Linked DNA regions of Homo sapiens: region 1 is reported to be linked to region 2. Evidence: microRNA targets listed by miRTarBase, many of them from high-throughput screens and not tested one by one. Region 2 holds a microRNA gene; the other region holds the end of a gene's coding sequence.

Region 1 (4,000 bases), not on the chromosome of region 2:
CAGGTCTACCTGAGAGAGTCTGGAAGGCACCAGGGACGCATTCAGTATCCTGTCCCCAAATCCAGGGCACTGTAATTGAAGGCAGCTTCCACCACCCGTACTCCAGGCAGCTGTCCTCTTGCTGTGGTCAAGGAGCCCCAGGATAGTCCAGCTCCAGGAATACCTTGGAGCTTTCATCTAATTCCCATCTAGCTTCTAAAGACTGGGCCCATGTAACTTGTGTTCCATTTCTGACATCCATGCTAAGTAGAGGGAAGTATCTTGTGATGAACTTTCTGATGTGATCATACTAGGAACTGTAGTAGAAAGAAAACTTTTATCTATTATAAGGATCACTGTTGTTCATCTGAGCCTCTGGTCTCAGTTCTCTGCTCCGCCTATGGCAAATTATTTGTATGTATTGTTCTTTTTTTGGGAACTGAAATGTGATGTTGAGTGTTTTGTAATATTAGCCATAATTTTCAAAATCATTTTCTAATTCATTGAAGATTAAACATTATCTTTGTATGAAGTCAAAATGAATGTAATTGTCCAAATCCATTATTATGTTCAAAACATGACACTCTAACAGAAGTAAACTGTTGCTGCATATTTAATACTATTTTCTCTTTACAGACAAGTTGTACAATTGTGTTTATCTCGCCATTAATAGTGAGGGAAATATTCTCTCTCGTGCTAAGGAGACAGGCTCACATATTGAGGGAGTGACCGGTGCCCGCGAGACAGAAAGAACAATGTCAGCCACATCAGGACCGCTGGGGCTTCGAGTCTGCCCTAATTTGGGTTTGTCTAGGAGCTCCAGCCTGATCTTGGATTGTCAGGCGTCTCTCAACACTGCCAGCCACCTGAGATGCTGACCAGCAGTGAAGGCTGCACTAGTTTTCTACACTACAGGAATTACTGTTGATGATTTTTGCTGTTGTTTCATGAATGTGCCGAGTGACTTCTGACTCTGCCAGCATCTTTGACCTCTGACTCTGCCCGCGTCTTTGTTTGGCCTATTGAGGTTTAGCGTTTTAACCTTAACTGTTGTTTTGGACTTGAACTTTCTCTAGCCTTGAAAATGGAGTGAACAGGAGGCAAAGCCACGCGTGGTTTGTGTTGGTGGTATGTTCCACAAATGGAAGAGATCATTGCATTTTGCTTTGGTAATGAGTTTACAGAGAGTGGGTCATCTTTGAAGCATCAAATCCTGATCAAATGCTCAAGCTGGACCGAGCTGCAAGCCTGCCTTGGACAAAGAATCCCTCTGTTCACTGTGGTGGGAAAGATCACACTACATGCCTGTTGATTGGCTCAGTCACTCTGTGTCTGATCTAAACGTCATTCAGCCCTAGAAGCATGAATTGCTTCAAATTATTGTCAACTTGTTCTCTTCCATTTTCATTCAAATTAACTTTGACTCCTGGAAGTATTGAGTCTTCCTTTCAAGGACCATAAGGTACATCAGTTATCTTGAACATTCTGACGTGTAAAGGACCATAAGGTACATCATTTATCTTGAACATTCCGACGTGTAACTCACAGCCGAAGCACTCCATCCCAGATTTGTTGTCTGGGAACTTAGGATCCTCTAGGAAGCTAATCTGCTTAGTCTATTTTTAGAGGATTGATCTCTGGCACAAGCAGCTTCCTGGAGTTACCTCAGCAGAAGACTAGAATTAGAGAAAAGGGAAAGACCTTTTCTTCTAGTAAGTGTCAAGTACAGATGCTCTTTGACTTATGATGGGGTTATGTCCCAGTAAACCCATTGGAAGTCAAATGCATTTAATACCCCTGACTGGACACCACAGCTTAGCCTCGTCCACCCTAAATGTACTCAGAACACTTAGAATTGCCCACAGTTGGGCAGAATCATCTAACACAAACTCTATTTTATAATCGAGTGTTGAATATATCATGTAATTTATTGAATATTGTACATTATGTTGAAATTGCAACCATTTCACACCATTGTAAAGTCCAAAAATCAGAAGCTGAGGACTGTCTGTACATGACATTGAATCACATGAATGGATTACTAGGGCCTGAGGGGTGTCCGTTCTTTAGAAAAATGTAGAGTATATATATCTTCAGGGCTGTGAATTCCATACTAGTTATCAATATTTTAAGATCATTCTGTATATACATATTTTAAATTATGCAAGCAAACTAGGAGGAGAATGTGCAATTTTGAGGGATACCTAATTTGCATTCGGTTAGGGGATATTTTTCAACCTCTTGCTTTATACTCTGATATGGGGTGTGTTTATGAACTTGTTAATGTTATTTAATCATGCAGATTTCCAATCAGTGTATTGCTCATTTACTGACAAAAAGGGAAAATACGAAACACAGAAAGGGAAAATAAACTGACTTTTATAATGAATCTCCATTTCGTTACTTAAATCTATATACCATGAGCACTGAGATTTAGAATGTGATCGGTGCCCTCATGTTTCCTGATACTGAGCGCTCCCGGGTGAGCCCACGCTGACCCACAGCATTGCTGGGTCACGTGCTCCCTCACCTGAGGTGCTGGGGTGGCTTCATTTCCATCTGTTCTGTGAAAACTTGCCCTTTCCCACTGTGGAAGACTGTGCTCGGTTTGGATGAATTGCCCGGTTGTAAGTTAAGGGCCGTCTGTTTTCTCATTGAACCTCTTGGCTGGCGTTTGGCTCAGAGTTTCCTTTCCGGCTGCACTGTGGGTGTGGTCTCATCTTTGTGTCCCCACGCCAGCCAATGTTTTCTTACCCAGTTGAACCTTAGATCGGTGACTGTTCCCCTGACCTTTCTATGGCCCCCGAGCTGTACTGAAATGAAACCATTTAAAAAAATTTTTTTGAGACAAAAGTCTCGCTCTGTCACCCACACTGGAGTACAGTGGCACGATCATGGCTCACTGCACCCTTGACCTCCTGAAGTCAAAAGCGATCCTCCCGCCTCAGCTCCCAAGGAGCTGGGACTAGCCTCCCAAGTAGATGGACCGTGCGCCACCATGCCTGGCTAATTATTTTTAGTCTTTTTATTTTCTGTAGAGACGAAGTCTCACTGTTACCCAGGCTGGTCTCAAACTCCTGGGCTGAAGCGATCCTCCCACCTTGGCCTCCCCAAGTACTGGGATAACAGGCATGAGCCACTGGGCCTGCGTAAAATGAAATTACAAATCAATGCTCAGCACTGGACAACATGAAATAAGGATATATTCCCTTATTCTAGTTCTGCCAGTCTGCACAGGATTTAACTTTTTTTTTTTTTTTTTTTTTGAGATGGAGTCTCACTCTTGCCCAGGCTGGAGTGCACTGGTGCAATCTTGGCTCACTGCAACCTCCACCTCCCGGGTTCAAGCGATTCTCCTGCCTCAGCCTCCCAAGTAGCTGGGACTACTACGGGCACACGCCACCACGCCCAGCTAATTTTTGTATTTTTAGTAGAGATGGGGCTTCGCCATGTTGACCAGTCTGGTCTGTAACTCCTCAAGTGATCCACCTGCCTTGGTCTCCCAAATTGCTGGGATTACAGATGTGAGCCACCGTGCCCAGCCAGGATTTAACTTTGATGAACATCTAAGAGTTCACTTTATTTTCTTCTTAATATCTTCTCCCTTGAGAAGGGAAGAGAAAACCATAGTGAAAGCTAATTTGAAAATGCATCCTTTCCTCACAGCCAGATCGTCGATGCTCGCTAGGTTGAAATAAAATGCTGCGGTCTGCCTTTTCTTTTCAGAAGGTGGTTTTTTTTTTTCTTACAGTTTCAAAGGAGGAAATGTCTCTCCCTACTCCTGCTTATTCTGTCCTTTCCTGGTTCCCGAGGAACCAGAGTGCCACAGTCAGCATTCCTGCAGCAGTATTGGAGGAGCTGCTGTTCCTCATGATGTTCCGTGGGATGGAGAATGTGCAACGCTCTCAGTCCTTTGTGCCTCTTCCCTTTTCCCTTTTTTTTTTTCTTTTTTTGAGACAGGGTCTTGCTCTGTTGCCCAGGCTGGAGCGCAGTGGCACAATCATAGCTCACTGCAGCCTCA
Region 2 (4,151 bases):
AATGGTATAACTTTGAATGGAGAAATCGCTTCACTTTCAAATACTGGGGATATGAAATTGAAATCAGGCCTTTATTTTTAAAGAGAATGGCTAAAAGTCATTGTTCCAGAGTAAGACTTAGAAAACAATGCTTATACTGTTTTCAGGCCCTTGTTATTTGCGAGTTTTTTGTTTGTTTTATGCCTAAGAAATGTTTTCAGCCACTCTAATGATGCTTACCATGCATGATTGTCATCAGAGGACAGTTAATTGACTCAAATATTGTGTGGGATAGTAAGTGTCAATTTTCTGTTTACATTGAAATGGTATAGTTATGGCGAATTTGAAATTAGTTTTGTCTTTCAGTGTAGTATACTTAAAAATAGTTTTGAAAAGGCTGCCCTAATTTGCACACATAATATGAATAAGTAAGTTAACTTATATAGAAATTAAGATTTTCAGTATATTTTGTGCTAAATTGCAAAGATTAATATGGCTTTTTAAAGGAAGTTTTGAATAGCCTTGTATGTATTTTCTAGGATGCAACTAAGAGAGTGCATCTAGATATCAATACCTGCCTTTATTTCATGTTTGTTTTTTGCTATTAACATTATATAAATGTACCTATACATCAGCTGTATCATATACCTCCTGATGAAGAAGTTCAGAATAGACCTTAGAAACTTCCATATTTTGGGGGACTACTTTCTCTCTGTCTCTCTGTCTCTGTCGTTCTCTCTCTCTTTGTCTGTCTCTCTCTCTGTCTCCATTTCTTTCTCCCTTTCTGTGTGTGCATACTTATGATACATATATATTCTTTGATGTTTCTCTATTTGTGCTATAGTTTTTCTGTAGGGAAAAATAGCTTCAGTTAATTGATATTTTTGAGCCCAATTTTAACAACTAATTAAAAATGTTTCCCAGATAAGTATTGCTAGAAATCCTAGAAATCCTTTTTTTTTTCTTTTTTCCAAATTCTAAAAGTGTTTTTAGACTTCTATTTATACCTCCGAAAGAAGAGAAAAATAGTTGGCAAGATCTTCTACCTACATTCTTTGTTGTAGGCTCTAATGATGGCATACTCATGGAAGCCCTTTCTACTCTTCTTAAGTAGAACACAAGCACATGTACAGTTAACTACTGTAAGAAGGTAAATTCACTACTTAGAAGTTAGATACTACTGATAAGTTTATCAGGTATTGTGAAGTGAGAATTTTATACAAATGTAGTGTTTTCCTGGTATGGTACAGCTTTTTCTTAATATTAGGTGTTACAGTTGATCCATTTCTTGAAACTTCATCCACCAGTCCTCCAGGAACATCAAGGATCTTAAACTTTGCCAGAGCTACAAAGGCAAAGTTTAAGATCCTTGAAGTTCCTGGGGGAACCATGGATGGCTATCCTTATTTCTATAAGAGAGGAGACTGAATACTGTGGGCTCAGTCTTCAGTCTACCCTCTTATAGAAATAAAGACAATCATTTCAGAGCATACATAATCTACTGACTGAATCATTAATGATTTGCCTGTTTATAGCTGTATAATATTTCATGAGGTGATAACTATTGTTCTCATTTGGTTTGTATTTAAATTAGATAATATCAATTTTAAATATAATTTTAGCCAAAAAAAATCAAACAGAACATTTGTAGTATGGTAGCAAACGTGCAAATTTGGGATAAAAAATTGAAATAAGAGAATAAATGTGATTTTAGCTTCTCAATTTTTTTCATAGCCATTTATAACCATCAAGAGATACCATGTTTTAAGTAAAATTTTAATAGCAAATAGGTTCATTTACCCAGATTTCAACCTAGGTGAATTAAAACATAGGGTTATAAGTACTAATGAGAGTTTTAAGAAACAGTATTTTGTAAAGTATCTTTGAAGGTCAAACTACATGTTATGCTCTGTAATTTATTTTATTTTTGTCTGCTTTGAGGAACTGTGTAGTAATAAAGGACTTTGGTTGATGATCAAACTCTCCTTTTACTTCCTTGATGATGTGTGTTATTATAGTCATAAAGATGTCCAATAACATAAACACTGAACTTTACTAGTAGTGCAAATAAATACAGAGAAAGTTTGGCTGATTAGAAAGAACAATTGCATAACTGAATTAATTTCAAAGCAATTTATCTCTATGCTGAATATGTTAATTAAATATAATTAGAGGGTGTTTATGGATTGTAGTATCTCAGAATATAGTTTGAGAGAATTTTTAAGGAGTCACATTTGAGTAAACAAATTTTATTTGAAATTACGTAAATGCAATATGAAATGGCAAAAGTCTATTGGTATTTTAGATTTATAAAATAGCATTGTTTTAGAGTAACAATGGCTATTGCTTTAAATTTTTATGAATTATTTTTTCTGTTTTAATGCATCACCATGACTGGATATGTAGGAGAAAAACCTTTAAGCTTCTTAGCAGTAAATCAGTAAGAGGTCTCATATTGCTAATGTCTTTAGTCATTTTAAAGGAAGAACTACTAAATTTGTAAAATCTGAGTTATCATAGGTTTAGCTGATTACATTAAGCAGACTAGGAAATTCATGATCAATTTGGAAAAATAAAATTTTCTAGAGTAGTACAGATGAGGTTTTAGAGAACAACATTTTAGACTTGATGTTGTTGGAAGTAAATGCTCGGTGCTGCCAAGTGAATATAGCACTCAGGCAAAAGTTTGCTCAGCAAGGCAATTTACTTCTATAAAAGGGTGCCTCTCACGGATGGAGCAATGGCAAGAGCACACCAGACAAGGGAGGAGAAGGGGATCTTACTATTAATGCAGCTAGTCCCTACTGCTTGTTTTTCCCCTATTGGGTAGGGTTGGACCGCACAGTCTAAGATAATTCCAACTGGCTATTTTAAAGACAGCAGGGGTATGAGCTGGAGTGGCGGGGTGAGAAGCTTTGGTGGGAAGGACGGTTACAGAGCAGGTGACCAAGGATGACTAAGGACAGAGCAGGTGACTAAGGAGGGAGCAGGTGACTAAGGATGACTAAGGACAGAGCAGGTGACTAAGGAGGGAGCAGGTGACTAAGGATGACTAAGGACAGAGCAGGTGATAGAGGCTAGGAGGGGGTTGTTTACTAAAGCTAGGGACAAGGAGATGTAAAGAACGAGGAAGTTAAACTTTCAAATGGAAAACAAAGAACAGGGAAGCTCAATATACTAACATATTGGTTCTTTGAAGAGGAATTTACTGTATCCTACAATGTAATGAATCTTTCTTTGGGACTTTCTTATTCAATGAGATTTTGTCTTTATTCAGTGATTTTCCATTCACTTAATATACATTTGAAGTCTTTCCCCCCTTCTCATTCTGGGAAATATAACTGTGTTTAAACTGTGCATCTGCAAATAAAGAGATTCTGATATGATACAGTTGAATTTAATAAATACTTATCAAATAACACTTGTTCTTTTTGTAGTTGTGTGATTAGTAGGTGACAGAGACCTCCTCTTATTAACTTAAATAGAAGTTGGTATTTCTATATAATTCTGAGGTACAGTGCAGAGGATGTTGAGGAAGGAGGAGTGGGGAAAGCGGGTATTCACCAGTGTGAAGGGAAGCAGTGTATGGAAAGAATGTGTGCAGGTGATTCTTAGACCAAGTCACAGAGGATGAGGATGAGTTGGGCAGGCATTGAAAAGGGACAGTGTCAGTCAGAGCAGGTGGGATAGGCAAGAAGGCATGAAGCCATGAATGTGGTTTAGGAGAACAACTTGTGGATTTTACAGTTATAGAGATGTTCCTCCTTTATGTTTCCATGTTCATGAACTAACCATTAGTAATTACATAAAGGAGTTTTAGCTGGATTAATAGTTTTAGCTGAATAATTTTAGCTGGATTATCTTGCAAAACAACCATCTTGTTTTTCTTTCTTTTTTTCCATTTCTCCAGACCTGATCAGCATGTAATTGGAATCACAAGGAGTAGGTTGTGCTCTCGATTTCATATTTATATTTAATTTCAGAACATGCAAATTAAAAAAATTTTTAATCACAGCATTAACTATATTGGGAGGAGTTATGATTTGGCTCTGCATCTTGTCTTATATTTGTTTATTTTTCATATATAAAGAACAGATGTGTTAAATAGTTATCTACTTGGTAGTAAGTAACTGTGCCAGTATTAACAATTTTTATGAATAATATTGAAAAAA

What was found. The annotated mature microRNA hsa-miR-561-5p reads AUCAAGGAUCUUAAACUUUGCC and lies in region 2 at 1,299-1,320, shown strand. An mRNA with a match to its seed (bases 2 to 7 or 8) in the 3' UTR can be bound and repressed. Matches are read on the target gene's strand: a 7mer-m8 pairs with bases 2 to 8, a 7mer-A1 pairs with bases 2 to 7 and ends in A, and an 8mer does both.
Region 1: miRTarBase lists SLC37A3 as a target of hsa-miR-561-5p. Seed matches in the 3' UTR shown: 7mer-A1 at 1,056-1,062.

The regions. Positions count from the first base shown.
Region 1 is chr7:140,332,120-140,336,119 of GRCh38, reverse strand. SLC37A3 (solute carrier family 37 member 3) reads left to right here. Exons shown (of 15, transcript NM_207113.3): 15 at 616-2,368. The coding sequence ends at 708. Among named protein-coding and RNA genes, the nearest start is that of SLC37A3, 64 kb to the left of the region's middle.
Region 2 is chr2:188,296,219-188,300,369 of GRCh38, forward strand. It overlaps MIR561 (microRNA 561), which reads left to right and starts at 1,274; the gene lies at 1,274-1,370. All of the region lies in intron 1 of GULP1 (GULP PTB domain containing engulfment adaptor 1), which reads left to right. RefSeq lists enhancers at 2,394-3,593, 2,724-3,018.